Linked DNA regions of Homo sapiens: all the other regions are linked to region 1. The links come from fine-mapping of genetic effects on plasma protein levels. A gene starts in region 1. Each other region holds a variant in brackets. All regions are shown on one strand. Distances are between the middles of the regions.

Evidence for each region. PIP is the chance, under the fine-mapping model, that this variant and not a neighbour inherited with it causes the effect. The UK Biobank Pharma Proteomics Project read protein levels with antibody pairs (Olink). The fine-mapping took linkage between variants from a reference panel, not from the people measured, so its PIPs are less certain.
Region 2: its variant is fine-mapped to the plasma level of the DDAH1 protein (UK Biobank, PIP above 0.99).
Region 3: its variant is fine-mapped to the plasma level of the DDAH1 protein (UK Biobank, PIP above 0.99).
Region 4: its variant is fine-mapped to the plasma level of the DDAH1 protein (UK Biobank, PIP above 0.99).
Region 5: its variant is fine-mapped to the plasma level of the DDAH1 protein (UK Biobank, PIP 0.94).
Region 6: its variant is fine-mapped to the plasma level of the DDAH1 protein (UK Biobank, PIP 0.98).

What each region holds. Positions count from the first base shown.
Region 1 is chr1:85,461,986-85,467,365 of GRCh38, forward strand. It overlaps DDAH1 (dimethylarginine dimethylaminohydrolase 1), which reads right to left and starts at 3,174. Exons shown (of 6, transcript NM_012137.4): 1 at 2,758-3,174. The coding sequence starts at 3,060. RefSeq lists silencers at 2,583-2,782, 3,023-3,432.
Region 2 is chr1:85,209,292-85,214,671 of GRCh38, forward strand. No RefSeq gene overlaps it. Among named protein-coding and RNA genes, the nearest start is that of SYDE2, 11 kb to the left of the region's middle. The variant TTTTAATTTTACTG/T (reference allele first, on the strand shown) is at 2,185.
Region 3 is chr1:85,484,088-85,489,467 of GRCh38, forward strand. It overlaps a transcript of DDAH1 not described here. Among named protein-coding and RNA genes, the nearest start is that of DDAH1, 22 kb to the left of the region's middle. The variant T/G (reference allele first, on the strand shown) is at 2,129.
Region 4 is chr1:85,115,514-85,120,513 of GRCh38, forward strand. DNAI3 (dynein axonemal intermediate chain 3) reads left to right here. Exons shown (of 23, transcript NM_145172.5): 17 at 2,216-2,346. Among named protein-coding and RNA genes, the nearest start is that of MIR4423, 16 kb to the right of the region's middle. The variant T/C (reference allele first, on the strand shown) is at 2,366.
Region 5 is chr1:85,129,179-85,134,558 of GRCh38, forward strand. It overlaps DNAI3 (dynein axonemal intermediate chain 3), which reads left to right. Exons shown (of 23, transcript NM_145172.5): 22 at 812-934; 23 at 3,677-3,960. The coding sequence ends at 3,820. MIR4423 (microRNA 4423) reads left to right here and starts at 4,616; the gene lies at 4,616-4,695. The variant T/G (reference allele first, on the strand shown) is at 2,477.
Region 6 is chr1:86,461,362-86,466,741 of GRCh38, forward strand. No RefSeq gene overlaps it. Among named protein-coding and RNA genes, the nearest start is that of CLCA1, 4.9 kb to the right of the region's middle. The variant T/A (reference allele first, on the strand shown) is at 2,742.

The DNA of each region.
Region 1 (5,380 bases):
GCCTCAGTTTCACCAACTTTAAAATAGGAATTATGATAGTATTGAGTTCAAAGAGTTGATGTGAGTATTAATGAAATGCACATCATAAATCTGGTATGGTGTATGGCAAGTGGCAAGTACCCAATAAATATTAGCTAATAATAGTGATAACAGTAAGCTGAGAACTTAAGACAGATAAAAGGGAAGAGAGGAAAGAGGAAGAGTACCCGGACAAAATAAAAGCAATAGTCTGGTGAGCTTCAGTGAAAGAACCTCGCTCGATCCATGGATCAGGGGATGCTTGGGGTGGGATCAGAGGTGAAGCTGAAGCTGGAAAGGCAAGCACAGCCCAGCTCAATGGGTTTATCTAAGCTCAGTGGGGGCCCCTTGAGAATTTTAGTCAGAGAAGGGACAGGATCAGATCTGAGTTTTTAAAAGACCAGCTTGGCTACAGTGTGGGAATGGAATGGAAAATTGACAAGACTAGAGGCAGAGATCAGTGACAATAATTTTAAAATAATTCCTTGGCTACTGTGGATTTTCACAGTTGGGAATGCAGACATCACATGAAAAAAATATACAGCAATCCATAGAGGGTCTTGAAGTAACTATCTTCTTGTATTAGCATTTCATTCATCATTCATTCATTCATCCACTCACTCAACAAGCATTAACACCTACCAAGGCGGTGAGCTGGTGCCGTGAGAGATTTCTACAAGCATTGCCCTACATGACTCTGCCCTCCAGAAGCATCCCATCCAACACTGACTGCCCATATTCCTCTCCCTGCCTGGGAGGCCTGTTACCCTGGTGACCCAGATCATGTGCAATGCAAAGGCAGGCACCAGCAGGAGACCCAAACCCAGAGGCAGTATCACATAGTAGAGAGATGTCACTAACTACATCAGTGTATAGCTGACTTCTTATTAACGGAGTAAATCTTCCCTGATCCATAGTTAAGTGAATAATAATAGTCAACATTCATCAAATGTCCTGTCCTGTGAATTTCAGGTAGATTAATACATCTATTACAACAACTTTGTGAAACAGGTATTATTATGTCCACTGTATAGATGCGAAAACTGAGGCAAGAGACACTCCCTAAAGGTCACAGAATTAGAAAGTGGTAGAGCTGAGATTCAGTCTAATGTTTTTATCCACTACACCATGTGACTTCTGGCAGTGGGCCACCAGGCTGATATCAGAATTAAACCAATTTAAAATGTATGCTTCAAAATCTAGGCAGGGGAAAAAGATCACTGCTCACTTAGGTATCAGGGAGGCCAAAGCTTGGAAGCTTTTATTATAGGAATAAAATGAAATGGGTGAATAAATATGGTGACAGTCTCTTGAGAAGAAATTGGACTACTCTCATCAAAAGAGTGCCATTTTGAAAGGGTTTTGAAATCGATTTTGCTCTTTTAAGTTCAAACCATAGCTCTGCCATTTGGCCTAGAACGCATTAGAAAGTATTCAAATGGGATTACATTCCTTATCAGTTTAAAAGAGTGGGACATCTCACAGACTCAAAGATGGAGAGGTGTGGCAAAGACATCAAAGGGCTAGCAGAGATCTGTTACTCTTTTGGTTTTCTGTTAATGGAGGGTGAAATAAAAGCTGATTATCTCGATGAGAAATTAGTAGAATATGCTTATTTTCTCAGACCATGTGGCATTCCATCAACCAAGTAGTGGAGCAGGTGAGGAATAAGCATATTTTATCATAAGCTCTATGAGGCATTTCCAATGTGAAGTGAATACAGACAAAATAGAAAAAAAATTCTTAAATCTCCAGAAATGAAAGAAACCACTAGCTTCTTGCAATGCCACTGGATGCCAATAGCAACGGAGTCTTGAGCCTGGGCTCTTAACTGGCAATGAGAAGAATCCCAGGCCAGATGGCATTTTAAAATCCAATCTCACTCTATTTGTCTCTCCCCACTAACCTACATTGCACTTAAAGCAATCAGCCATTTCACAAGCTGCAGTATTTCAAAGTAGTTACAACCCTTGAGAACAGAAAAACTCTCTTAATTGCTGTGAGTTTAAAAATATAGAGAATAAAAATTATGGAATTTGTGAAACAACCATCTCTAATTAAACACGCTCGCTAGCACACACACCCAACACCGCACAGAGTACAGCTTTTCAAACCTAGCCCATTCATGCACACATTTAGCACAGCTCACCAACAAAACACTTTTCCTTCCATTCATTCACTTACTAGTCCCGTTCTTTGGGACTCACTCGCCACCACTGAAAACTAACTTGAGAAGCCCCAGGTCTGTGGGCACCGACACCCCGTTAATTCATCCAGCTTGTCCTGCTCCGAGCGCCAGGCAGGACTTGGGGGCTTCGGTGTCACGACTGGCGCTGCCCCCTGGAGGGACGCCCAGCCTCCACCCGCCCTACCGGAGCGGCACCCCTCGCGGCCCTCGCTCCCTGGGAAACACTCAGAGTTGCACTGTCGTCGCTGCCGTTTAATTTTCACAAATAAAAATGCCCGTGAGACGGAATCCCCCGCCCACCCACCTGCCCGAGACCGTACAACCACATTGAATCGGATCCTCCAGAAGGCTGCCGGCAGCCGGGAGGTGTGAACAATGAACTTCTCTCTGACTCTCTGACACACACACACACACACACACTCGCCCCCCGACGGGAAGTTGTGAACTACTAGCCCGAGGGCCAATGGCGCGACTCCCCAGGCAACACGGCGGCCGGCGGCGGGGGAGGGCCTGGCGCGCGCCCCGGCCGCGCCCCTCGAGTCGGCAGTTACCTCCTTCCTCCGGCTCGGCGCCCCGGGTCGGGTGATGAGGGCCGTCTCCTCGCACACCACGGCCACGTCCTCCACGAAGACGCAGTCCGGAAGGCTCTCGTCGGCCGGCAGCTCCACCACCTGCAGCCCCAGCTTGCTGCCCAGCACGCCCACGTAGAGCTGGTGCTGCCGTTCCGCGCGGGCGACGTCCACCTCCTCGCCCTTGGCGCTTCTCAGCGCGTGCTGGCCGAGCGACTCGGGTAGCGCCCGCACCACGGCGTGGGTGGCCCGGCCGAAGGCGGCGGGGTGGCCGAGCCCGGCCATGGCTTCGGGAGGCTTAGGGGCGGCGGCGGCGGCGGAGGCGGCCGGGTCCTGCCGCGGGCAGCGCGCGCTGAGCCTGCGAGCGCCCGTCGGCTCCTCTTGGCAGCCGCTGAATGTGGTGCAGAAGGAGCCCAGCTCGCGCCCGGAGCCCTGCCCGCGCGACTGAGCATGCCCAGAGCTCCGGGCGCCGGCCCGCGCGCATCCCGCGCGCCCACTCCGGCGCTCGCGGGTCTCGCGCCAGCCCAGGCGGGAGTTGTAGCGGCGAGCGCCGGGCGAGGAGTGGGGCCAGGAGAGGCGGCCGGGGAAGCAGCGAGGGCAAGAAGTATGCGGAGGCGGGGGACCTCGGCGAAAAGCCACCGCTACCCGGACCTGGCGGTACCTGTGTTCTGTCGCAGGTGCACACCTCCCATCGTCCCCAGCGCGGACTTGGAGAGCCGGCCTCGGTCTGGACAGAGCAGCTGGAGGGCTTCCTGGTCTTTACCTGAACAGTTTAAACCTTGCGTGCTTACAAAGTCTAGCCCACTTTTGAAGAGCTATAATGGTTTACAGATTCTTCATGTTGAGCTTAAATCCCACGGGTCCCAGTTCTGTTTTCTGGCCTTACCTAAAGTACAAGTTTTTCTTGTTTTGTGTGTGTTCGCGTGTGTGTGTGTTTTCACAAAACAGCATTTGCATATCTGAAAACAGTTCTAATTATCTATGCTGCCTAACACCATCCTCTACCCCCCACCCTAAACCCCCTCCAGTCCTGGAGCCCAAACCACTGAAAAGTAACTAGTGATTTGGTTTCCAAGTCCCTTCAACATTCTGGTCAGCTTCCTTTTGATACACACCAATTTGCTTGTATCCTTTTAAAATCATAGTATCCGGAAAATAAACAATTCTTCCTGTGTGGTCTGACCAGCACAGACTACAGCAGCACCCTTGTTCCAGATGCTGGGCCTCTATGAACACTGCCTAAGCCTGTATTCACTTTTTTGGTGGTCTAGGGCCAAGGCCCAGGCTACAGCCTTCTTGCCAGAACTCTGATCCCAGCTTTTAGGAAACTCTGGATTTCTAGGAGCAGGTCTCTCTGAGCATCCTAGAATGGTTGCCCCAACTGAGCCCAGAGATGTGATCTGCCTTCTCTCCCCTCCCACAAGGGTGGTGTGAATTTATAAATGAGCTTCAAAATTCTCAGCTTCACATTTGAGGAGTTTTTTTTGTTTTTTGTTGTTGTTTTGTTTTGACGGAGTTTCACTCTTGTTGCCCAGGCTGGAGTGCAGTGGCACGATCTCGGCTTACTTCAACTGCTGCCTCCCCAGTTCAAGCAATTCTCCTGCCTCAGCCTCCTGAGTAGCTGGGACTACAGGTGCACGCCACCACTCGCGGCTAATTTGTATTTTTAGCAGAGACAGGGTTTCACCATGTTGGCTAGGCTGGTCTCGAACTCCTGACCTCAGGTGATCCACCCGCCTCCACCTCCCAAAGTGCTGGGATTACAGGCATGAGCTACCACGCCCTGCCCAAATTTGAGGAGTCTCAAGGACAGCTCTGACACTGACATTGGGAAGTGGGACCAAAAGTAAAATAACAAACCTTTAAGACCGACTAGGTAGTACTTCTAAAGCAAAATTCTTAGGGGATCCAGGCAGCCCCATTAGCCCCAGTTTAGCGTCAGAAATCACTTAATGGTGTCCTCAGATGGAGGATTTCCATCAAAGTTACAGGTGAAAGTTGATCTTTTACCTTAAGCTTGCCCTGGTTAAATATAAAATTTATTTATTTTTAAATTAGTTCATTATTTATTCTTTTTTTTTTTTTTTTTTTTTTGAGATGGAGTTTCGCTCTTGTTTCCCAGGCTGGAGTGCAATGGCGCGATCTCAGCTCACTGCAACCTCTGCAACCGGGGTTCAAGTGATTCTCCTGCCTCGGCCTCCCGAGTAGCTGGGATTATAGGCATGTGCCACCACGCCTGGCTAATTTTGTATTTTTAGTAGAGACGGAGTTTCTCCATGTTGGTCAGGCTAGTCTCAAACTCCTCAACTGAGGTGATCCGCCTGCCTCGGCCTCCCAACGTGCTGGGATTACAGGCGTGAGCCACTGCACCCAGCCTATTTATTCTTATTATATATTGTTTATTTGTTTAGCTCCCGGGTTAAATAAAGTATAGGACTTCATTCTGCTCTTTACTGCAGACTTTACCAGACATTGAGGCTCCATCTGTCTCTAGCTGGCCACCATCTAGCAATCTTCATTCATGCCTGTGCCTTGTTGGAGCCTGAATATTTCACCTACCACTCAGTGCCCTGAGTCTAACTATGAACAGGGTTCTGTGTACCAC
Region 2 (5,380 bases), 250 kb before region 1:
CTGTGCCTGTAGTCCCAGCTACTCGGGAGGCTGAGGTGGGAGGATCACTTGAGTCCCGGTGGTTGAGGCTGCAGTGAGGCTAGATTGCGCCACTGCACTCCAGCCTGGATGACAGAGCAAGACCCTGTCTCAAAAAAATAAAAAACAAAAAACAACATTACACTAAGTGAAAGAGGCCAGACACAAAAGATCTCATAGTATGATTCCATTTATATGAACTGTCCAGATAGGCACATCCATAGAGGCAGAAAGTAGATTAGTAGCTGCTCGAGGCTGGGGGAAGAAGGAAATAAATGAATGATTTCTAAAGGACATATGTTTTCTTCCTAGCATGATGAAAATGCTCTGGAACTACATTGTGATAATGATTGCACAAACTTGTCAATATACTAGACTTTAACATGGTGAATTTTATAGTATGCAAATTTTATCTCAATTTTTAAAAAGAGGACTCTTTTCTCTCCTTATTTTTATTATTATTATTATTTTTTTTTTGAGATGGAGTCTCGCTCTCTTACCCAAGCTGGAGTGCAGTGGCACAATGTCAGCTCACTGCAACCTCTGCCTCTGGGATTCAAGAAACTCCCCTGCTTCAACCTCTTGCGTAGCTGGGACTACAGGCGCCTGCCACCACGCCCAGCCGATTTTTGTATTTTTCTAGTAGAGACGGGGTTTCGCCACATTGGCCAGGCTGGTCTTGAACTCCCTGCCTTTTTATCATTAGCTATCCTCCCAACTAATATTCATGGAAAATCTTAAAAGAAAACGTTTTATTGGAACTTTTAAGAAAGGATTGGAGATACAAATAGCTTGAAAGCTACTTCATTGGGTAATTGTTGTCAGAAATACTGTCACATTCCCAAATGCTAGTTTTTCAATAAAACCTTTGATTCTATAGAGTTTTCATTCACTACCCTCAGTGGATTGGTTCTAGAATCCCGCTCAGATACCAAAATTCACAGATGCTCAAGTCCCTTATATAAAATGGCATAGCAATTGCATGTAACCTAGGCACATCCTCCTGTCTACTGTAAATCATTTCCAGATTCCTTATAATACCTAATACAATGCCTACATATCATTTCATTCAAGTGGATTCAACACAGTACTCAGTGGATGGCAAAATCAAGTTTTGCTTTTTGGAACTTTGTGGAATTTTTTTTTCAAAATATTTTTAATCTGAGGTTGGTTGAATTCATGGATGCAGAACCCACAGACATGGAAGACCAACTGTCTACTCAACAAATAAATACAAATGGCTTCTTAAAGTTCACTTTTCTCTATCAACTACCAAAGAACTCAAATACAGAACTACAAAATTAAACAAGACTTCTGGCCCCCTCAATCTCTCACTTCCACCAAGAAAACAAAAACATTTTCCAGCATTTAGAAATAACAGCCTACTTTCATTTCCTGCTGGAAAGTCATGGTTCTTTCATGTAAACAAAACCAAAGGACATTACCCTTATAGCAAAAAAACTACCTGGAAAAACCATAATTACACTGAAAAAGATAGGTAAGTAAACATATCTTTAGCCTTTTGTATTCTTTTACTGGATAATTTTCTCTAAGGTAGAGGGTGAGGAGCTATATATTATGTAACATTTTAGAAATAGCAGAAAACCAATTAGGGGGAAGAACACAAACCAAAACTACCCGATAACTTCTTTCCTGATTAAAATTATCTTCCAACAATTCAATTATATGTAAAGAGGGAACCGTGGCTACACACGTATTTATTAACTGTTTCTGGCGGTCCAGAGGAAGCTGGATTATTTTTACCATAACAAAATCAGTTATTTTCAGCCGGGCGCGGTGGCTCAAGCCTGTAATCCCAGCACTTTGGGAGGCCGAGGCAGGCGGATCACGAGGTCAGGAGATGGAGACCATCCTGGCTAACACGGTGAAACCCCGTGTCTTCTAAAAATACAAAAAAATTCTCCGGGCGTGATGGCGGGCGCCTGTAGTCCCAGCTACTCGGGAGAGTGAGGCAGGAGAATGGCGGGAACCCGGGAGGCAGAGCTTGCAGTGAGCCGAGATCGCGCCACTGCACTCCAGCCTGGGCGACAGAGCGAGACTCCGTCTCAAAAATAAATAAATAATAAAAATCAGTTATTTTCCTCCCAGCCTCATTTTCATAAGCGCACATACAACTATTAATGACTCTTTAATTTTACTGTTTAA[TTTTAATTTTACTG/T]TTTAATTTTACTGTTTAATTGAGGTGTTTAGAAACACCTCAATTTTATCTCAGTTGCTGTTTTTTGCGTTTTTTTGTTTTTGTTTTTGTTTTTGTTTTCAGACGGAGTCTGGCTCTGTAGCCCAGGCTGGTGTGCAGTGGCTCAATCTCGGCTCACTGCAAGCTGGTTCACACCATTCTCCTGCCTCAGCCTCCCAAGCAGCTGGGACTACGGGCGCCCGCCACCACGCCCAGCTAATTTTCTGTATTTTTAGTAGAGACAGGGTTTCACCGTGTTAGGCAGGTCTTGACCTCCTGACCTCGTGATCGGCCCGCCTCAGCCTCCCAAAGTGCTGGGGTCACAGGTGTGAGCCACCGCGTCCGGCCCTCAGTTGCTGTTTTAAAGGGTGGTGCATGCATGCAATTATGGCACACACAAGAAAGTGAGACATAGTATATATAAGGCCAGATATGTCCATTCAGTGTAGAAATGATACGTTCCAAGAAACATATTTCAAGTGAATTCTTAGGTCAGGAGTTCAAGACCAGCCTGGCTAACCTGGTGAAACCCCGTCTCTATTAAAAATACAAAAAAATTAGCTGGGCTGGTGGCAGGCACCTGTAATCCCAGCTACTTGGGAGGCTGAGGCAAGAGAATCACTTGAACCCAGGAGGCAGAGTTTGCAGTGAGTCAGAATTGTGCCATTGCACTCCAGCCTGGGTGACAGAGCGAGACTCTGTCTCAAAAAAAAAAAAAAAAAAAAGAAAGTATATTCTTTCAAAACAAGAAAGTTTTTAAAGTAACATGTTTTTAAAAGGTTATCAAAGCAGTGAAAGATTTTGCTTTTTTGTATATTTGAGATAAATACTGATAAATCACATCAGGAATTTAGGATAGTTTCTTTGCTCTGAAGAGTTCTCTCTCCAATTATTCATCACAAGACAAGATAGTAATTGTCAAAGAAATTCTTTTCTGCATTATTATACTTTCCTTGAAGGCTGAGATCATATGTTATTTATTGAATCCATTGGGCCCAGCACTGCACGCCTCTACCTATCTTCTGAAGTCTGGACATCAGTCTCAAGTCACATTCCTGTCACCTTCTCAGCATTTTTACTACACAAGTCATCCAAGAGTTAACAAAGTTATTTCACACACTAACACTGAACCCAAGATGAAGAATAGAACTATCTATTTTGTCATCAGAGTAGACAAAATCACCATCTCTGACTCATTTAAGATGAAGCATAGCCCAGGTACAGTGGCTTATGCCTGTAATCCCAGCACTTTGGGAGGCCAAGGCAGGACAGCTTGAGACCAGGAGTTCAAGACCAGCCTGGGCAACATGGCAAGACTCTGTCTTTACACAACATTAAAAAAAAAAAAATTAGCCGGGCATTGTGGTGTGCACCTGCAGTCCCAGCTACTTGGGAGGCTGCGGCTGGAGGATCACTACTTGAGCCCAGGTGTTCTTGGATGCACTGGCACCACTGCACTCCAGCCTGGGCAACAGAGCAAGACTCTGTCTCAAGGAAAAAAAAAAAGAAAGAAACATGACAATTTTCCAAGAGAAGAGCAGCTTGAAAGCTATGTTTCATTGCATAATCACTGTCAGAAATGCTTTCACATACTATATTCTAGTTTTTTGATAGAGTCCTGAAGTCTACATATTAAACAAATAAATACAGTGGCTTCTTATTTTTTTTTTTTTTTTTTTTTTTTGAGGCGGAGTCTCGCTCTGTCGCCCAGGCTGGAGTGCAGTGGTGCATCTCGGCTCACTGCAAGCTCCGCCTCCCAGGTTCACGCCATTCTCCTGCCTCAGCCTCCCAAGTAGCTGGGACTACAGGCGCCCGCCACCACGCCTGGCTAATTTTTTGTATTTTTAGTAGAGACGGGATTTCACCATGTTAGCCAGGATGGTCTTGATCTCCTGACCTTGTGATCCGCCAGCCTCGGCCTCCCAAAATGCTGGGATTACAGGCGTGAGCCACCGTGCCCTGCCACAAATAAATAAAATACAGTGGCTTCTTAATTAAAAGACAAGAGGAGACTACAGAGTCATCAGCAACACTGTGATGGTCACTGGAGAGGTCAGTACCCTATGGAAGCTCAGTAATTGCTCTGAAAATAAAAACCTAACGTAGAATTCATGCAAAGACAACTTGATTTTACACATCTACAACAGGATTCTAAACTCAGTGCCTACTGGGGCCAGGCAGGTCCTGTCAATGAGTGTTCAAGTCCAAACATAACCAGAGGACTTAGTAAAAAAAAGTACGTTCTCAGCTGAAAGAATGGAGAACTACAAAGAATCATTCCCTCACCCTTTTCCCATGTTCCTTTCTTCCACCCTTTGGCTAAGGAAGTGAGTTTCACATTTTAAAATATACTACATAGGCTAACTCTGGGTGGGTCAACCAAATACATGTGCTAGTTGCTAGTTTTTGACCTCTGATCTTCAGGGAACAACACACAAAAATTTTTTCCAGAAGAAAGGAATGCATAATATCATAATTTTAAATAATTTACCATTAGCCTCATGACTGAAAGGGTTAAGGTCTATGGTAATGATAAAAATTCCCTCTCTTGCCTTATTTTTCATCATTATAATCTCAGTATCAGCAGGAGCCTCATAATTGCACAGAATTTATGAGTAGTAAACTGTTTTTACTTTACCTCTTAGTCTGATTCTCACCAAAAACCTTTGGGAATAAATAAGCAGAACAGAGATGATTGTAACCACATTCAGATGAGATAGCTGAGACCCAGAAGGGACAAGCCATTTAATCACGCTTATTCAGGTTTGAGGATGATGCATCCCTAGTTTTCCAAGCTTCTAGTACAAGTATCCTCATTTGTAAAGCATGTTTAATCTGATGAAAGTGATGCTTTCTTTAAAATCATAGATAGCTTAAAAACATGGAAAAGCAAAGATAAACAAAAAGAAAAATCTCATGTAACCACTCCCACAGTCATAATTATTAAAATGGAATTCAGTTTTCAACTTCACGTGAAGAGTAGTTGCTGGAAACCGTGTTTTTCAATATTTCAACCTCATAAGTAGTACTAAAGTAATATTCTGGTAATACAGAACAATTATCTTAGAGTGTGATATTTTATTGTAAACAGCATTGGTACTTGCTAGTATATTGGATGCAACATGTGTGAGGAAGGAAAAAGTTAAAAACTTATTTTACAATGAG
Region 3 (5,380 bases), 22 kb after region 1:
TGCACTTCTCAGTACATTTTAAAGGTTGCCTCTAGGCCCAAACATTTCTTAATCTCTCTTGGAAGAATACTGGCGGCAAGTGACCAAAAGGCTGTGGTTTCAGAACTTAACTGTAAAACTGCTGAGTTTATTGATACATAGCTGGTTCAGGATAAATTTTATCTATCTACCTATTTATTTATGTTTAATATATAATATATTTATATGTATTATATATTTTTTCAACTTTGTGGTATAATGAATTATGTGTAATGTCTGAGCTCATATCGCATACCACTGAGGGCAAGTAGCAATTTCCATAAAGTGACAGATAAGCGGTTTTAGGGGGAAAAATGCTGCCAAGGATGATTCATTTGAAATCAGCCTTGACAGTTTTCCTGCTGATGAGGCTGATGGAAGGACTAGAACAAAGGTTAAATTCTTTACTTCTAGGAAACTGTGCTCTGTGTTTAAGGCTTGGTCCTCTGAGCTCTGCTAGTCCATCAAGACTAGCATGTGGATACAAGATCTACAGTCAGACTAACCATGTAGAGCTTTTGATAGAAAAAGGAATTTCTCCACAGTTCTACAAACAGTGCAATTGATAATGCATGTCAATTTAATGATGTAAACTGTAAATGTAAATTCCACATTAATCCCTAAAAATAATGGTTTAACAATCATTATCACCATCTCGCTCAGTAACCCTATCACCAGAACCACCAAAATGTAGAAGTTGGCTGATTTGACCTCCTGTATGCCTTTTCAGCCTCTTTCTGGAAACATACAGGCTGAAACATAGCTCTAGAGCAAAAGCAGGTGAGCAATTTAAGGGACACATGTACTCTGAGTCATTGGAAGTTGGCTATTTTGAACATTTCATCAACTGCTTTCACATAATACTAAACCCTTCTTAGTAACTAATACAGGTTACTGTGTGCTATGGATAGCATACCTGAGCTTCAGTAACTTTATTTTTTGATGTTAAACTCACATTACATCAGCATGCTATAGATTCCCATCTTCATCACACTAAAATAATTATTGCCTGTTTAATATCACATAATGCTGTGCGGGTGCCACAGAAAATAAGGATACTCAGGTCCTGCCTTTTGGGACCTAACAATTTTCTACAGATAATGACAATGACAACACAGAGAGACACATAAGTCATATGATAAACAATTGCATGAACTAGGTAAAGCATCATATTAAGAACAAATAAAAGAGTTAGCTTAGGTAGTTTTTTTTTAAATGAGTAAAGAGGCAATTATAGAAGCAAACCACAGGAGAATCACTGGCTTTTAAATGAGCTTAATTAATTATTTAATTAAGACAGTGTTTCCTGGAGGAGGACAAATCCAGAAATTTTGCAGATTTGGTAACTGCAGAATAACTAAAATCCTAGCATGGGAAAAATATTCCAGGACTCCTATCATTTTTATCCCCAAACTTTACAAGAAATGGCATCAGAACTAAAGTCCTGCAAATTTTGTTGGATTTACGTTTTGCCTTCAGCCACATGTCAGTAAGATCAGATGTGCTATTTATATTGTGATTAGTGCCAGGATTTTGCTCAAATGTATACTGAACTCAGGCTTGTGACTATGCTCATTACTATAGAAAATGAGCACTAACACATTATATCAATGGACGCATTTAAACAGCATCCGTAGGACAATTAAAGTCAATGGACTCTGAAAGCAAACTATTATGAAGCCATGTTTATGCAAGCATGTCTAAATAGGTGGGGTTCAAGCATTTATTTTGTCTGTTTTGTTCAGAGTGAAGTGAATTAACAAAAGATGGGCTTATCTCTGAAGTCTGCCTCACTAGTGGCCTATTGATACAACTGAAGCCCACCAAAATCAACCCCTTTAGCTTGGGAAGTGAACTATTTTGGCTAGAAACTGTTAGATTTTTCTGGAAATTTCACACTTTAAAAGAAAATCTTTGAGAAAGACACATGAGAAAGACATCTAACTACAAAGTGGTTGAGTTTGCCCTGCTGTCACTCTTGCTCTCTTGCAAGCAAATGCGTATCTGAGGTTTGAGCTGAAAACTCACTTCTGTGGGGTGATTTTCATAGATATGGAACTTACTATCACAATGCCTAAGAAATGTGGTTTTCAGGAGATAAGGATGAAAA[T/G]CCACTGGATTGCAAGCTGTCATCTATGCTTTAGAATATGAGAAGTAAAATGCTGTTAAACAGAGGAGATCTTCAAAGAGCTACCTTAGTATGGGAATGCTCACCAGAGTTTTCAAACCACAGACACACAAATCTGCAAAAGTGAAAGCCTTCCAAAAAATCAAAAGGCTCAGGGAGAATTGTTCTGACAGAATTCAGCTCTTACAAGTCAATCTGAGGCTGAATTATACTCTTAAAATGCAGAGTTAGAATCCTCCTGCAAGGCACTTTTCCTAAGCCTTGGGTAGGATTTTATTATAGGGTACTACAATGTTCTGTCTTTAAAACTTCAGCTAGACTACATATTTATTCAGTCATTCAGCCATCAAATGCTTACTGGATGCCAGCATTGGAGATGCAAAATGAATATGCTATGGCCCCTGAACTTCTCGAGTCTGATAGAAAGGACAAGCACATAGAGAATCTCAATGGTGTGCAATAAATACAGGGTGATATTAGAAAAGGAACACTCACTTTAATTTGGAAAAGCATCATCAAAAGGAAGAAATAGAAGGGTAGTCCAGGCAATGAAAATGGCATTTAAAAAGGCATGGAGGTAGAGAAAGGAAAGCACTTTGGGGTCATGGCAAAACAGCTCAAAATGAGCAGATGTGGGTAGAGAGATAGGCTGAAGCCTGATGACCAGAGTCTTTGAATATCATATTTTGAATTTTGGATTTTACCCTGAAACTAATAGAGAAGAATTCTTTGATAGATATTAAACAGAAATAAAATGATCAGAACTACAGAAGGACAATGTTCTGGGGCAGTATGATATAGTGTCCGTAAAACAATTGGATGTTTAATTCGCCAAAGTAGGTTGTGAGAAAAGTTACATTTGTGTTCTTGGAAGAGAAATTAACCCTCTTCAAATGGATGACTGGATCCTTTTCTCAGTAGTTGCTCTCCTTGTACTTAGGACTTCCAACCAAGGGAAGTTGAAGGAGAAGGTGTCACTCTCAGGCACCATCTGAGCATTATTGAGAGTACTTGAGAACTTGTGGCTATCACCTTTCAATTGAATACATGTCATGTGGGCACTTCCAGCTCTGCTGGCAGTAGCCAACGCAGATCCAAGAAAAGGGCAGTAACAATAAGAATTGCCTACACTGTCATGGGAGTTATTAAAGAGCTGACTGGGAAAGTTATTTAATACATCTGCTCCTATTCTTTCATCTTGTTCAAATTGTGCCTGCATCAAATGTAAACTTCTGCTTTAGTTATTCTGCTAGTCAGCCATCTTCTTTCAACATAATCAGTATTTTTCTTCTTTGAATATAATCTTATTTTTCCAAATGAAATGTTTTTGTTATTAAATGTTTTTGTTTTATTACTTTAAAAAAGTAAATTTTATTTATTTAATTCCTTGAACTGGTAGCACATTCACATAGTTCAAGCATCAAAAAGTATAAAAAGATATACAGCAATGTCTCCTTTCCTCCCTTATTCTCTATCTGCCTATCTCCAAAAAACAGGTAACCAATATTATCAGTTTCTCATTTACACTTCCCAAGATTTAAAAAACATATATGCAAGCCAGTACAAGTATATTTTCTCTTCTTTTTTTAACTCCCATTGCAGTACACATTGGCACTTTGCAGTACACATTGGCACTCTTTTCTCCCCTACTTAAAAATAAATCTTGGAGGCTAGATGCAGTGGTTTACACCTATGATCCCAGCACTTTGGGAAGCTGAGGCAAGCAGATCACTGGAGGTCAGGAGTTCGAGACCAGCCTGACCAACATGGTGAAACCCCGTCTCTACTAAAAATACAAAAAATTAGCCAGGTGTGGTGGTGCACACCTGTAATCCCAGCTACTCAGGAGGCTGAGGCAGGCAAATCACTTGAACCCAGAGGCAGAGGTTGCAGTGAGCTGAGATCGCACCACTGGACTCCAGCCTGGGTGACAGAACAAGACTCTGTCTCAAAATAATAATAATAATAAATATTGGAGATTGTATTAGTCAGCTCAGACTGCCATAACAAAATACTATAGATTGGGTGGCTTAAACAATGGAAATTAATTTTCTTACAGTTCTGGAGGCTGAAAGTCCAAGATCAGGGCACCAGCATGGTCAGATTCTGGTGAGGGCTCTCTTCCTGGTTTTCAGATGGCTTTCTTCTCACTATGTCCTAACATGCAGATAGAGAACCAGCAAGCTTTCTGGCATCTAATCTTATAAAGGCACTAATCACATCATGAGAGTCCCACCCTCATAACCTCATCTAACCCCAGTTACATCCCAAAGGCCTCATCTCCAAATATCATCATCATATTGAGGGTTAGGACTTAAACACATGAGTTTTGAGGGAGACATGAACATTCATTTCTTAATAGAGATCTTTCCATATAGACATATAAAGAGCTTCCCTATTCTTTTTTACAGTTGCACAGTATACTACTGTGGCATCAAATACCCTTAATGTCAAAACTGGGAAAACTGAAGCTGTCCTTAATCATTTTTTTGCTAATAGGATCTGCAGAAACAAAGTTAGAGAGCTAGAGTCCTAGAGACTGAAAGGTGATGTTTCTGATGAGGTTAGACATAAACTGGAATTATATTCTGATGACTGGTGAAAAAGTATTAAAAGTCAGGCAACATGTTCAGTGTATATTCATTAGCATGTCATTAGATCCTCAAAATTTCAGCATTCTGAATCAAATACGGTTGAATTTTCTAATATGAAGATGGTGACTGCATTTGAAAATGCAAATTAATAGACATACGCTATGAAATGTATTTTTGTCATGTCACTACTTATAAACAATAGTCAACTTGCACCCAGCTGTTACTTACCAGGCATGTTATACAGGCCATTCTAGCCATTCTAAACATGTTTAGTGGAAGTTCTGAGAAAATGTTAGCACAGAAGATTTAGTGGTCTTTGTGAATAAAGTTAAAATGGTTATTCAGACCAGAAAAGGGAAAGAACTAAGGAACAAAGAAGGGAAAAACAGTATGACCACAAAATACGTTTGGATAACCCTACTGAAAGCAAAAATAATAGGGTGTGTGCTATTCCAGCAGCCTGAACTATCACTACCTGAAGGAAGAGAAGGCAGAGACAGAGTAAATGTCTGTAAAATATGGCTGAAATTAGATTCAGGGATAAGGAGGGAAAAATCAATCATGGAATTAGGGTTTCAAGCCTAGGTGACTCAGTAAAAGAGTAACACTGTTGGCTGAGATAAGGTGGAAGATATTTGGA
Region 4 (5,000 bases), 350 kb before region 1:
GGAAATCCATGACCTATGAGGATGATTTTGAATCTAAGTATCCAAAGTTATTCCCGTCAACTCTGAATAAACATAGTTAATAACGTTTTTCCCTAGCCTCACCTTCTTTGACTCTATCATAGCCTTCCCCAACCTTTTTTGCACCAGGGACCAGTTTTGTGGAAGATAATTTCTCCACTGGGTGGCAGGGGGAGGTGGGGGCAGGGGGGCAGGCATTAGATTCCCATAAGGAGCGTGCAACCTAGATCCCTTGAATGTCCAGTTCACAATAGTGTTCACGCTTCTGTGAGAATGTAATGCTGCTGCTGTCTGACAGGACATACTGCTCAGGCAGTAATGCTCTTTCGCCCACCTGCTGCTTGTCTCCTGCTGTGCTGACCAGTTCCTACCAGGCCACGAACCAGTATCTGTGGCCCAGGGGCTGCAGACCCCTGCTCTACCACATTAAATGCTATTAACTCAGCCTATTTTCTTGGAGCGCACACTTCTCTTAGCATCTGTGATTTTCCTATCCTGCTACTTCTTCCGTTATTCCTCCTCTATCTCCTTTCCTGGCTCCATTTCACCTTGCTGCCATCTACTCATGAATGTACCTTGAACTTTAGCTTCAGCTGTGTACTTTCCTCATTGGTAACACAGTCTACCTGCATGGCTCTAACTTTTATCTCTGCTGAGAATTCTCCATCTGACTCTTGCTGTCTCCTGGGTTTAAACCCAATCTACCCTATCCAAGTCAATGTGTCCAGAACAGGATTGATAACTTGAGTCATTCCTGATTCTCTCTTCAGGCCTCCACTTCCAGTCTCTCACTCAAGTTAATCATGTTTTCCTTTACATTTATCGCACCTTTGCCTCTTCCTTTTCATTATCAGTTGTAACCCTATAGATCAGGGTCTTGTCTCCCCTTGTGAGACCAGAAGTCTCCACACTTTTAATCTTATAGCCCCTTGTTTAACATTTCTGAGTTCAGATTCTCAATGTATGTATATGTATTTACAAATTATATACATATTCTACTTCTCTAATATATTTGTGTACATGATTTAAAAAGAGAGGAACAGACATTGAAATGTGAGTGAAGAATTTGAAATAAATATTTTAATGATTTTAATTGTATACATTAAATGGGTACAAAATGCCTTTTTGCTCTTCCTACATGTATTATAAATAATATCTTTTAATGAGAATAATGTGATTGAATATGCCCAGTCATGTTTGAAATGTTGGTTTACACTTTGTAATACAGCTATTTAAAGATCTAGTTCGATGTTTGGTTCATTTTGATACTCGTTTTTGATGTCTTACTTAGTGGGAAAAGATACGTCTCAAAACATGTAGATCCAAAACAAAGAGAGTATTGGTTGACTATACCAACTAAATCATGATAATCATTTTTAAGTTTTGTCCAGAATTATGCTAAAGTTTTTTTTAAATGTAATATGTCTTTTTAGTATAGCTGAAGTTTTATTCTCCTGTTTTAGTTTTCACTTGTCTGTTTGTTGGTTGGTTTTATGGCTTTTTGTTTCCTCTTGGGTAATATGACTCAGAGGACATATTGAGGAAGTGTGGTAGAGGAGGGTTTTATGAGCATATATTTCTCTACCATCTTTCCCAGGAATTGAATATCATATTTTCAAAAATCTAGTAAGTTACCTGGAAAAATGTTTAGGACATAGCTTTAAGAGAATAGAAAAGCAGCATATAAAACTAAAATAGGATATTATCCAGTTTTTTAAAAAAAAGTGAATTTACAAGAAAAGTCACAATATTTTAATATTATCTCTGGGAGACATGATAATGGATGATTTTCGTTCTTTTACTCATGCTTTTCTTTATTCTCCAAGGCTTAAATAAATAACATTTATTAATTTTAGATTACAAAAAGACTTTTAAAACAAGGTGACATCAAATACTTTTAAAAAGAAACAGGTTGCCGATGATGTTTGTGTTTCAGCCCCCGAATTACCTATGCTCTTACACTATGTGCAGGTATAGCTAGAGCTATAATATAGCACAGTCATTGATGTTTGGTTTGGAACAAAAGAGGGTTCTTTTGCTAAATTAGAAATCTAAAAATGCTTGGACTTATGCTCACTACATTGGGAAGGGAATGGGGCAAATGCAGGTGGCAAGGGGCAGAAAATGTAAACTGTCTATATTTTAAAAGATGTTTCCCTGTAAATATGTACTTCTTCTACCCACACTCCTCTGAAAGACAAAATGTTAGCACAGAGCAAAACAGAGAAGGCAGAAGAAATGAACCCGTATCATAATCTGGAAAGTGGGATGGCCAATCTTCTCAAGCCAATAGATGACTTCTGCACAAAGTTCTTTGTGGGAACAGAGGTAAATTGGGATTATCTGC[T/C]TTTAAAATTAATACTTATTTATACTAAAATATGTTATTACAATATCTACTGTACATTTTTGCTGTGTAAAGACATAAAAGTTATACCATTTTCATATTTTAGTATGCTTGTTTGCATTAAACATTTTTAACTCTGATACCTCATAGTTTCACCTTTAAAATGTTCCTGAACGTATGTGGACAAATCTGTAAAATTGCATACTTTTTAACTAATAATATATTGTTCAATCTACAAATATTCATCAAATACCTTTATCATTTGGAAGAAACCATACTAAGTGTTAGAGATTTACTAAGAAACTATAGTGTTTTGTTGGGCTAACACAATCTAGTAGAAGAGACAGAAAAAACTCACTCATTTCAAAAGATAAATAACAATTGGATATAATAATGATAATGGCTGCCATTTTCTAAGGACATACTGTAATAATAACCAAAGCGAGTTCACATTTACTGGACATTTTCTATGTATCAGTGTCTGTGCCAAGTTATTTTCCAAATTATATCCCATTTAATCCCAGTAATCCTGTAAGGTTGGTATTATTATTGCCATTTTATAAATGAAGAAATGAGGCTCAGAACTTTATCTACAGTCATACAGAGGCAGAGATGCTCTTTTCACTCATGACTCTCATTCCCTGAAATACAGAGTATTTTTCCCAGGCCAAGTCACCATGAGAAGAGGCCATAGCTCAGTCTCACCAGAATGCAATCTTCATCCACACTTTGGTATGAAGAGGAAAGCAATCAATTCCACAAGCTCTGGAGAACATGACTGTGTCTCAGGCACAGCACTGGGTGCTGGGATCAGAAGTGAATAGCATGGTCCCTCTCTCCTCAAGGCACTTTCTGCCTAGTCGAGGAGCAGACACATGATAAACACCAACACCAGTCCAGAGGCCATTCCGATAGGAAGAAGGAGGTTGGGGAAGGTGACCCACAGGCTGCTTGGATGTTGGAGGTTGAGAAGGAATCTCAAAGGTCAGGTTGAGAGTAGAATTCCAAGCAGAAGTAACAGCCTGAACAATATTTGGAGTTATGAAAGCCCAGTATTTGTCTGGAGTTAGTGAAATAGTTTGGTGTAAGAGGGAAAGGTATGTCTAGAATGCCTGGTTGGAATCCAATACTGAAGAGCCTTTCCTGCTGTGTTAGGTAATTTGAGTTTCATTTAGTAAGCAATGCAACACTACCAAATAAATATGTGCTTTATAACTTGGGTTTCACAGCAAAGTTTAAAAAATTTTTTTAATTGTGGTAAAATATATGTAACATAAAATTAATCATCTTAGCCATTTTTAAATGTACAATTCAGTGGTATTAAGAAACTCCTTTCCCAAAGGAGTTCAATAATCTGTTGGAAAAGTACATTCATATTGTACAACCATCACCACCATCCATGTCCAGAACTTTTCCTCATCCCAAACTGGGCGTCTGTACGCACTAAACACTAACTCCCTCTTCCTTTCTTTCCCTACCCACTTGTAACCACCATCTACTTTCTGTATCTACGAATGTGACTATTCTAGATACCTCACGTAAGTGGAATTATACAATATTTGTCCTTTTGTGCACCAAAGTTTATAAAGCAGGGGAATGACACCATCAGACCAGATTTAGAAAAATCAGTGACTGCAAGATCTTAAAGCAGAAATTAAAGCATGACACCCCCTGCTCAAACTCTTCAGTGACAACTCAGTACAACATGAATAAAATCCAGACTCTTCACACCATGGCCTATAAGATTCGTCCCCTGCCTATCTCTCTGCCTTATCTGCACCAACCTCCCTCTCACTCTGGCAGCTCTGTTTTTTCCTTTTTTCTTTTTTCTTTTTTTTTTGAGATGGAATCTCATTCTGTCACCCAGGCTGGAGTGTAGTGGCACGATCTCGGCTTATTGCAACCTCCACCTCCCAGGTTCAAGCAATTCCCCTGCCTCAGCCTCCTGAGTAGCTGGAATTACAGGCGTGTGCCACCATGCCCAGCTAATTTTTTTGTATTTTTAGTAAAGACAGTGTTTCACCATGTTAGCCAGGCTGGTCTTGAACTCCTGACCTCAGGTGATCCGCTCGCCTTGGACTCCCAAAGTGCTGGGATTACAGGCGTGAGCCACTGTGCCCGGCCTTTTTTCTCATCCTCCTAATACAAACTCTTGCCTGCCTTTGGAGGCCTTGCCCTACTTGGAATTTCTTTACTCATCCCTCAACAGATACTCACTGCACATTTAATATATGCCAGGCATTGCTCTTGGCCCTGTAGATATAGCACTGAACAAACAGACAAAATTCCCTGGCCTCATGGTGTTGGCAGTCCATTGGAAGGTTCTACCAACTTGTGACACAGCTGATCCATCTACTTTGGATAGAGATGTTCAGGGAGGCATCACTGGGATCTCGACTGGCTGGCGTGGGCTGAGGGAAGGGAGTGGAACCCTGGAGGGAGAGAAGACAGGCAGGCGGTGATTTCAGGTGGGCCAGCCCAGAAATGAAAAGGGCCTGAGCAGTGGGGCCAAGAATGTCAACACAGGGGTCAGAGAAGTGGAGTTGGGTAACAGAATTACAGAAGTGGCTAGAGAAGGGTATAGAGGTTTCCAGCTAGGTGACTGATGATACGATGAGCCTTCAACACACATTTATTA
Region 5 (5,380 bases), 330 kb before region 1:
CAACCCAACTTGGAGTATAGCAGGCAGCACAGCTGAACTGGCGGTATTCTGCACCCCCCACACTGTACCCACCACCCAAGTGTTTCAAACAATGTTAATAATGAGGCTTTAAAAAGATCAATGAATAGAAATATATAAATGTATATACAATGAACATTAAACATATAGATTGCAGTCTGCTGCAAGTCCAAACATCAGCCTAGTTACTGGCAGGCAAAAGGCTGTCTCTGCCCTGGTTGCCTTCCCCAAGGTCTCTGCTGACTTTCCTGCTTCTATTCTATGCCTACACTCGAAGCCCTCCAGGGACCAGGAATTCAGCTCTGCTTCCAGTCCCTCTAGGATCTACATTGATACTCTCATCTGGGTTTTCTAAGTTTGATTGATGATATGAAACTTCCCCCAGATTTAGAAGGAAGAAGGAAGAAATGGGGAAAAAGCAACCCCTGAATATTTCTACTACAAAATTGCACATTTTTGCAGCTCTCTCCTTCCAACCCTACTTTGGAAACCTCCAAGTCACAGAGCCCTAAATGTTAGCACAGTAGCCCCTGAATTGTACCAGCTCCTCTGGTAGTGGGCCTGTGAATACAATTTCCAAATTATATTCACCTAAAAGATTTAAAGTATCACAAAATAGATAATCTACATAATGATTAGGTAGATGATCATTAGATAATGATCAAGTAGATTAGGGAGGTAGATTAGGTAGGTCGTCTACCTAATTACAAGCAGCAGAAATTCTAACAGAGCCTTGTAAAGGTCATGGGGGCTTCCTGCCTGTCACCCTCTCATGGACTTCTGTTTCTAACAGATGGCAAGTGTCAACCACTATTTTGAAAGAGAAGTCAAGCATCTGGAATACGTAGAACAGCGCAAAAAAATTCGTGAGCAAGAAAAGAAAGAAATGGAACTAGAAATGGCAAAGAAAAAAGTTGTAAGTTAAATTTCAGAAATGAAAGATGTTTTCCTCGAACACCAGTGGAAATATATTTGTTTGGCTTAATCCACAGTTTCCATAGAAAAGTTATACTTTTTCACATTCTTCTCTTGTTCTCATGAGAGTCAAGAGGGCATTCCTTTGATTTCCTAGCTCACTGCCAGTTAGACACGTAGTGAGATTCTGTCCAATTTAAGTTTCTGAAATTTTCTATAATTTCAAAGTCCTTTAGTACAGATACCTTAATTCAAAATTTGAATGCTTTCATTATAGAATTTTAATATCTGGTGAATAATGCATTAAAGAAGGTGGTGCAAAAAGAGTTGAATATGGAATCAAGACACGTGGGCTCAAATCCCAACTCTGCCACTGACTAGCTGTGAGATTTGGAGCAAGGCTGTCACCTTTGCTGAGCTTCAGGTCTCTTATCTTGAAAATGGGAATACTAATAACTAGGATTACTGTAAGGCTGTCAGTTAAAGAAAGTGACAAATAGACTTTCAGTAAATAGTGCTATTATAATTATAATGATAGATGATAGATTAGATAGATGATAGATAGATAGATAGATAGATAGATAGATAGATAGATAGATAGATAGATAAATAGATATGAGGGGGTAGAGAGAAAGAGGTGAATTTTACTGTATATGATATGCTGAAGATATGAAACTTGAAATAGAGGAGAATTTGGTACAGGGCACATCCATCTTAAACTCTGCCAAAAAAGAACCTAAGCTCTAAAGCACCCCATGCTCCCTTTCTCAGCTTCTCCCTGTTTGATACGAATTCTGTGACTCTGCTGGTCTTCCCTTGCCCACTGGAATTTTGGGCTTCTAAATACTTTGTGAATTAGGCTTTTCTCTCTTTCTCACTTGAGATCACCTCAGTCTCAATTTCTGTTTCCCTCTTGCTCCCTCTCTCCTTTGCTCTTTTGTTACCAGCATTTCATCATTGATCTCATCTGTAGGTTCCGTATAGCCAAATACATACATCCTCAAACACAGTTACTCACATGAGGCCTTCAGTCTCAAAAGCATTAGCATGTGGCACTGGGCGCCGTGGCTCACACCTGTAATCCCAGCACTTTGAGAGGCTGAGGCAGGCAGATCACGAGGTCAGGAGTTCGAGACCAGCTTGACCCACATGGAGAAACCCTGTCTCTACTAAAAATACAAAATAAGCCGGGCATGGTGGCACATACCTGTAATCCCAGCTACTCGGGAGGCTGAGGCAGGAGAATCACTTGAACCTGGGAGGCGGAGGTTATGGTGAGCCGAGATTGTGCCATTGCACTCCATCCTGGGCAACAAGAGCGAAACTCCATCTCAAAAAAAAAAAAAAAAAAATAAAGCATTAGCATGTGGAAATATTGTAATGTGCTGCATTAGCAAATAAATTAACATTATCACTCATTGATAAATACTAATTAGTGCAATAAAAGCAGAGGATCTCATTTCAAAACATGTTTGGTGACAAAGTGTAAAAGAATGCCAATTAATTAAACTTTCATTGCATTCCACTGCTACAAACAAATTGA[T/G]CTTAGTTTTGTTCTTTTGCACTTAACAAATGTTGATTTGTTGAGATTCTATTGTGGGAGAGAATCTGCCACCCTTCCCCTTCCCCAGCAATTATCCACGATTATTATGAGTGTTTAAATACCATAGCAACAGCTCCTAATTATCTACATCAGTGGGAGCGAGTAGAATTGTGGATAATCCAAAAATAATTTGCATGTGAAATACTTTTTAAACACCTGAATATTATAATAATAATATCTTAAATTGTATTATACTTTTCAATTTCCAAAACGTTCCCAACTTCTTGTAACTTTATTTCCATTTGATATGGTGCCCTCTTTTAAGTAAAGCCACCACTTCTCAAATTTTCTCTGCAACTATGAATAGATTGTGGGTATGTGAATGAATTTGAAAGGGTTCCTCTGTTACATTGAGAACATAAAAAAAGTCACTAAGGAAAAACAACTAATGTTAGTCAGAAATGTCTCCTTCTAAGCAACGGCTGATAAAGGGGGAAATGGCAACAGTAACAACCTCAGAAGATTGCAATGGAGCTTAAATGAGTTAAAATATTTACAGCACTTAGCCAATAACTGGCACATAGAAAGTGTTCACATGTTCGTCCAGCAAGGCTGGCCTGTGTGAGTGCTCACCAGGTGCCAGGTTGAGGCTGTACAGTTCAACACAGATTTCAGGAAAATCATGCACCTGTCTCTTTGCAAACATAAAATCTGGAAACAGCTCACTCCTCAATGGACAATAATAATCACTGCTCTAGTTGCATATGAAATGGGAATTTTCCTAACCAGAATTTCAGCTGGAGACTCAGCCTGGGACAGTAGTCATTGCCGTGTGATCCACAAGCTATGCCATCCATATGGACTCAGAAGAGGGGGATTTCAAAAGAATTCTGCAACCTCTAGGCTATTAGTCACCCTCCAGTCTACATAAGGGAAACAAGAGTTATAGGGAAGAAGGCCGGAAAAAGGGACTTTTTTTTGAGAGACAGTGGTTGGGGACCATGTTTCCCCCCACTCCCTCCTTTCCCAGCACATCTGACTGCCTCCTGCCCACCTGCCCTCCTGCCTTCCTGCCCTCCATCCAGCCCTTTCCAGAAAACAGCAGCCAGGTCAACTATTCACAAACAGCCCCTTCTCATCCTTTGGTATTTTTAGATATCAGTGTTTTATAGGGATGTCTTGTTTTTCTTCCCCCCCCAGAAAACATATCAGAAGTCAAAAGAACAAATGCAGGCTGAATTAAAAATGGACTATGAGAGTTATCTGGAACTGGAAAAGACTGTTCTTATCAACCTTGGCCTAATCAAAGTCACAGAGAAGGGGTCATACATGGAGGTGATGTAAAAAAGCTTCCTGAAGGGGTGTTTTGGGGACTTCTTCCCTCTATTTATTTTTATGTCAGGTGAACTGGCATGCTGAACATATATATATATAGGCTCATTTATAGACTTTTATTTCCCTGCTATTAAAACTTTTGAATTTTAGCAATGAGATCTATTTCAGTTTTTGTACCATGTATGTACCAAATTTTGTACTGAATATGAAAGTGTTCTTTTTTAATGAATGTTTTCAATAACAAAATTTGTATTTTCCTATAATAATAGAGAACTTTGGATGTCCCTTCCATCCCAATCCTTGCTGTCCACACAGAGGCCCTCATTCCAGGCAGAAGGGGAAATCAAACTGCTCCTACTTATCAGCTTGCTTTTGGCCACCTTTCCAAAAAAAGTGCTTCCCCTTGGCCACTGTACAAACTGTAGGGCCATGTGCTAAACAAAATATTAGCAAATCAAATCCAGAAATATATATATATATATATTTTAAAGAGGTTAACACATGAAGACAAAGTTGGGTTTATCCAAGGAAGATAAGGTTAATTTAAGAGTAGAAAATAAATCAGTGATTAATCAAAAGAGAGAAATTATGATGCCAAGTCGATGCAGAAAAACATTTCATAAAAGTTGACATCAATTCATGATAATAATGATACATTCTTGGCATCTACAGAAAGAATTCCTGTAATGTGATGAAGGGCGTGTAAAACAATACTACACCAAACATGGTACTTCATGGTGACAAGCAGAAAGCTTTCCCCTGAGATGTGGAACAAGACACAGCTCACACCATCAGGTGCCTGACATCATGTACTGCAGTTGCCTTTTTGTTCCCATGCTGTTTAAGCCTAGCATAGGCACCAAAAAGCAACAACAGTATGTGAAACTGAGACACAAAAGAGCTTGGAGCCAGATTGTGAAGGCTCCTGTTTACCAAGCTAAGGAGCTGGATTAGAATTTATGGGGAATGAATGGAAGGTCTAAACAGGAAGTTGACCCAATCAGCTTTATTTTTAGGAAACAAGGAATGAACTAGAGCAGGGGAGAGTCTCATGGCAAGAAATCCTATTAGGAGGCAGGAGGAATTGTTCAGGGCAAAGGATTAGGATGCCCTGTACTAAAGCTTAATGTGAAGATAGAAATCAAAGGCTGGTTGGATGGGGAAGGGAAGACAAAGGATAATACCAAGGTTTATAAGTTAGATTGCTAGAGGAAAGAAAACTTTGTCGGATAGATTTTAGCTCTTAACCACCTGTGTGCCCTTGAACAGATGACCCAGCTCTGTGAAACAGATTCCCCTTCCATCAAGTCAGGTTGAGAGAACTTAACTTGCAGCATTTATGTAAGGGGCAAATGAGCCCCTGCAGATAAGGGGCCTGTGCCTGGCACATATTATTGTCATCATGATTGAAATATCCCAGGGCTCATCCTTACACTTGAACTTCTTTTATTCTTTCTTTTTTCTGCACTCACTTTCTAGGTGCATGCATCCACTCTCAAGGCTTTAGATACTACCTCTGTCCCTGACCTGGCCTTCTCTCTAAAATCAAGAGATGTGTATCTATTTGAC
Region 6 (5,380 bases), 1.0 Mb after region 1:
CAAACATCTAAAAGGAGTATGTTTTAAATTGGCATGATCTTACTTCACACCAACGTAGGAAAGAAGAAGCAAGAAAATGAAGAAGATAAAAGGTGGAGAGGGGACCGTGGTGAGGGACCCCAGAAGAAGATTGCCATTGTTGAAAGCACAGGCTTTTATAAGAAACCAATGAGGGCTGGATGTCTCATTTGCACAAGGCATGAATTTCTGGTAGCTCCGCTCTGTCCTCCTAGTGTGCATGTGGGCCCTTAGCTTGAGTTACTCCATATTGCTTTTTCCTCTTACTGCACATGTGTTAGTGGACAGAATTTTCCATTGCAGGCATGTCTGGGTAAGTCACCTGTGTAGCCTTTTTTATCTGTGCGGTTGTGGGCATGTCTTAGATAAGCCCCTCTGTGCAGGCTCCCTTATCTATGTCTGCCGGTTGTTCTTTTGTTTGAAAGGATTCAACCAAAGACCCACCCTAACTGCCTGCTTGACTGGTGTCTTCCTTCTCTCTCAAAACACCCCCATTGCCCTCTGAAGCTTGGCTGAAAAGTCAACTCACAAAAGGCAGATTAGTTGGAGAAATGGCATACAAATTTATAATGTGCACATGGAGAGAATCACAGAGTGATTGCCCACCCTCTAACAGAGTTCAGAAGCTTGTCTACCATCCTGGCAAAACAGATTATGAGACAGGGGAAAGAGGAATATAATATATTAGTGTATATATATATGTATATATATATATAATATTTATATTAGTACATATTAATACTACAGGGAAATTAAATTAGAAATCAAAAATAAATCAACTAGAGAATCCCCAAATGTCTGGAAATTAAGCAACATATTTCCACATAACTCATATGTGAAGAAAGAACTCACAATGAAAATTAGAAAACAGTTTGTAATCCCACCACTTTGGGAGGCTGAGGCAGGCAAATCACTTGAGGCAGGTAGTTCAAGACCAGCCTGGCCAACATGGCAAAACCCCATCTCTCCAAAAAATCAAAAATTTATCGGGCGTGGAGGCATGGGCCTGTAATCTCAGCTACTTAGTAGGTTGAGGCACAAGAATCACTTGAAACCCGGAGGTGGAGGTTGAAGTGAGCAGAGATTGTGTCAGCACACTTCAGCCTGGGTGACAAAGCAAGACACTGTCTCAAAAAAAAAAAAAAAAAAAAAAAAGCATATTTATATTCTGTCTGTATACACTCTGAAACTGTTTTTATAAGACTATTTCTTAGTTTCTTAAATTTCCTCCTGACTATTGCTTTAGCTTTGTCATATAAATTTTGATAGGCCATATTTTAATTATCATTTAGTTCCAAATATTTTCTAATTTTCGTGTGTGTGTGTGTGTGTGTGTATTTTGAGACAAGGTCTCACTCTGTCACCCATGCTAGAGTGCAGGTGGTGTGATCTCGGCTCACTGCAACATCCACCTCCCAGTTTCAAGCAATTCTCCTGCCTCAGCCTCCTGAGTAGCTGGGACTACAGGTCTGCACCACCATGTCCAGCTAATTTTAGTATTTTTTTGTAGAGATAGGGTTTCACCATGTTGGCCCGGCAGGTCTTAAACTCTTGACCCCAAGTCATCTGCCTGCCTCAGCCTCCCAAAGTACTGACATTACAGGTGAGAGTCACCACGCCCAGCCTCAGAATATCCTTGATACTGATACTTGGCAAGGACACTACAGGAATGGAAAAGTACACACCAGTCTTATGAACAAATATGCAAAAATCCTAAGCAACATATTAGCAAATTGAAAAGGACACTACATCATGATCAACTAAGATTTACTCTAGGAATGTAAGAGTGATTTAACATTGAAGAATCAATCATTGTAACTCATTACATTATCAGAACAAAGAAGAAAAATTATATACTCATCTTAATAGATATATAAAGAGCATTTGATAAGATTCAACACCTATTCATGATTTAACTACAACAAAAAAACACCTCTCAAAAAACTAGGAATAGAAAAAGACTTTTTTTTGTTGTTTTTTTAAAGACAGGGTCTCAAGGTCTCACTCTGTTCAAAGTGAGAGTGAGAGGCAGGATTGCAGGAGTACAGTGGCTCTCCTGGGCTTAAGCAATCCTCCCACCTCGGCCTCCCAAGTAGCTGGGACTACAGGACATGGCACCACAACTGGCTAACTTTTGTATTTTTTGCAAAGGTGGTATTTCACCATGTTGCCCAGTCTGGTCTCAAACTCAAGCAGTCCTCCTGCCTTGGCCTCTCAAAGTTCTGGGATTGCAGGTGTGAGCTACTGCACCTGGCCCAAAGAGACTTTCTTAATCTGATAAAGGTATCTACAAAATATCTCTAGGTAACAGCATACTTAATGGTAAAATATAGAATTCTTTAGAATGTTTTTCTCCCTGAGATTGGGAACAAGAAAAAAGATATCCATTATTTTCACTATTCAATATTGTACTCAAGGTCCTAGCTAGTCCAATAAGAGAAGGAAACAAAAATATTGGAAAGGAAGAATCAATATGTAATTACTCACAAATGACATAATTATATACATATAAAATCCAGAAGAATCTACAAATACTAGAATTAAGTGAATTAAACAAGTTCACTAAATGTAAGGTCCATACATAAAAATTTATTATATTTTTATATACCAGCAATAAGCAATTAGAAAATGGAATTTTATAAAAATACCATTTACAATAGCACCAAGAAAAACCCCTAAGAATAAACCTAATGAAAGATGCACAAGATCTCTATCCTGAAAAC[T/A]ATAAACCACAGTTGAGAAAAATTAAATAAAACTTAAAATGAAGAGCCATACCATCTCCATGGTTTGAAATACACAATATAATAAAGACGTCAATTTTTCCAAAATTGATCTGTAAACTTAATGCACCCCTATAAAACCCAGATATTTGTATGTGAAATTGACAAGCTGCTTTTAAATTTTATATTGAAATGCACCTAATGTAGCCAAAATAGTCTTGAATAAAAACAAATCTGGACTGTTTACACTACCAGATAATCAAGGTAAGGATAGTCACACAGACCAATGGAACAAGGAACAGAACAGAGAGTTCAGAAGCAGACCTGCACATCTGTAGTCACCTCATGCACAACAAAAGCACAACTGTAATTCAGTAGGGGAAATTATGGTCTTTTCAATAAATACTCTCAACTTACTGGCTATCACAGAGGAAAACAAAACAAAACAAAAACCTTGAACCTTTCCTCACACCATACACAAAAATATTTTGAGATCAATCAGTATACCTAAATGTTAAAGGTCAAGCAGCAAGGCTTCTAGAATCATATATTGTATAATATCTTCATGAATTTGGGAAAGCTGTCTTAAATATGACACAAAAACATTATACATAAAAGATTAAATTGGACTGTACTAAAATTAAAAATCTCTATTCATCTAATGATACTATTAAGGCAAGCTACAAACTAGGAGAAAATATTTTCAATATATCTTTCAATACAAAAGACTCAGTATCCAGAACATATAAAGAACTCCCATAAATCAATAAGAAAAGACAATTTAATTAAAAATTGTGCAAAAAAAAAAACTTGAAGAGATACTTCACAAAAGACCAATATGTATATAAAAAGGTCTTTAACAACATTAGCCATTAGGGAAAATGCAAATCAAAACCACAGAACGATATGACTACACTCCCAAGAAAATGGATAGTTAGAAAGACTGACAGTACAATGTACTGGTGGAAATGTGGAATAACTTGTACAACCACTTGAAAAGTATTTGGGAGATCAACATAATCTAGTATCAAAGAAAAACTTCATGCAAACACTTGTTAAAGATGGTAAGGGGTGGGAGGCATGGTGATAGGTACAAGGACCATTGCAAGGAGGTCTTGCAGTTGGGGAGAGAAAGTAGATTAACTCCAACTCCAATAAGGACAAGTGGGAATTTATAACCAAGGAGAAGGGTGGGGTCAGTGGATGAAAAATGCCTATGAGGAAACATCAAGGATAAGGAATGTCTGGCTAAACTGACTTGATAGGGTTATTGCTGAAGGCAGGCCATGGTGGAAAGATGCTGAGAATGGTCAGATACCAAACGTGGGGATTTTCCCTAAACTGACTTAGCAGGATTCTTGCTCAAACTGGATTCTGCAAGGACAGAGAGGGAAGCCCAAGGTCAGACCTAGTCAGAGAAGACTCAGGATCCTGACTTAAGTTTTGGTCAAAGGAGGGAGTCTTTGTCACTAGATAGATGTATACCCTGTCACCCAGCAATGTCACTCTTTGTATATTTGCAACTGAAATCAATGCTTACATCTATGGCATCTTCATTCATAATAGTCCCAAACTGGAAATAGTCCAAATGTTCATCAAGAGTGGGTGGTAAGTAAATTGCAGTATTTTTTACAGTGGAATGGAATGGAAAAAGAACATATTACTGCTACATTCAACAACTTGGCTGAATCTCATATAGAAAATGTTATGTCACAATAGCGAAATGCAAGAGTACATACAGCATATTTCTGTTTATATGAAGTTCAAAAACAGGCAAAATTAACCTATGTGGCATAGAAGTCAGAATAGCAATTATCTTTTGGGGGGATTTACTGGAAGGGAATGCAAAGGAAACTTCTAGAATGCTGGAAATATTCTTTGGTGAAAGGTTGTCCCTTAGGGTGCTAACTCCCTGCATCTCTGGTTTCTGTTATTTGGCCCATTTGGGCTGCCTCTGACAAAGCCAGATCCCAGTACCATGGTGCAGTGATTTATCTGAGCCAAAAGCCTCCACACATCCATTCAATCCAGACTTGGGAACGGGAGAGAATGGAGGAGCTGCCCCCACAATCTGCACAGTGAAGGCCATGCTAAACTAGGCCCTCTTCCTGGGGAAAGCTAAGAAGAAACACTGGTATTAGGAGATGTGTGAATTTTAGCAGCAGCCAGGACTCTCCACTGAGCAAGCAGCCAAGACCCAGCTTGCAGGGAATGCCAAGCAAATTTGGAGAGCACTTAAACTGAGTCTGTCACACCAGATGACCTCTGTCATAGGGAAATGCAGCAGCTGCAGCCAACAAGGGCAGGACAACTAAAGACCCCACTCAGGGATGAAGGGTGGGATTACCCCAACAAGAGAACAAACAATACAGATCAACCAAAATGCTGAGTAAAAGTGAGGGAAATAGGTGATAAAGGAGGGAGATTATAAAAGCCTTGAGACCAGCTGTAACAGCAGGCATTGCAATTTATTTCAATAACCTTCTTGCCTTATGCACTTGAGCAGATTGCAATTGACCACCACTTTGAAGGAGATTCTGTAAATGATTAAACTTGTACCTTCTCTCAGGGGAAAAGTGAGACAGCTAGTGCTCACACACACAGAAACACAAATCCTACATTATAATATTGGAGCTTGATAT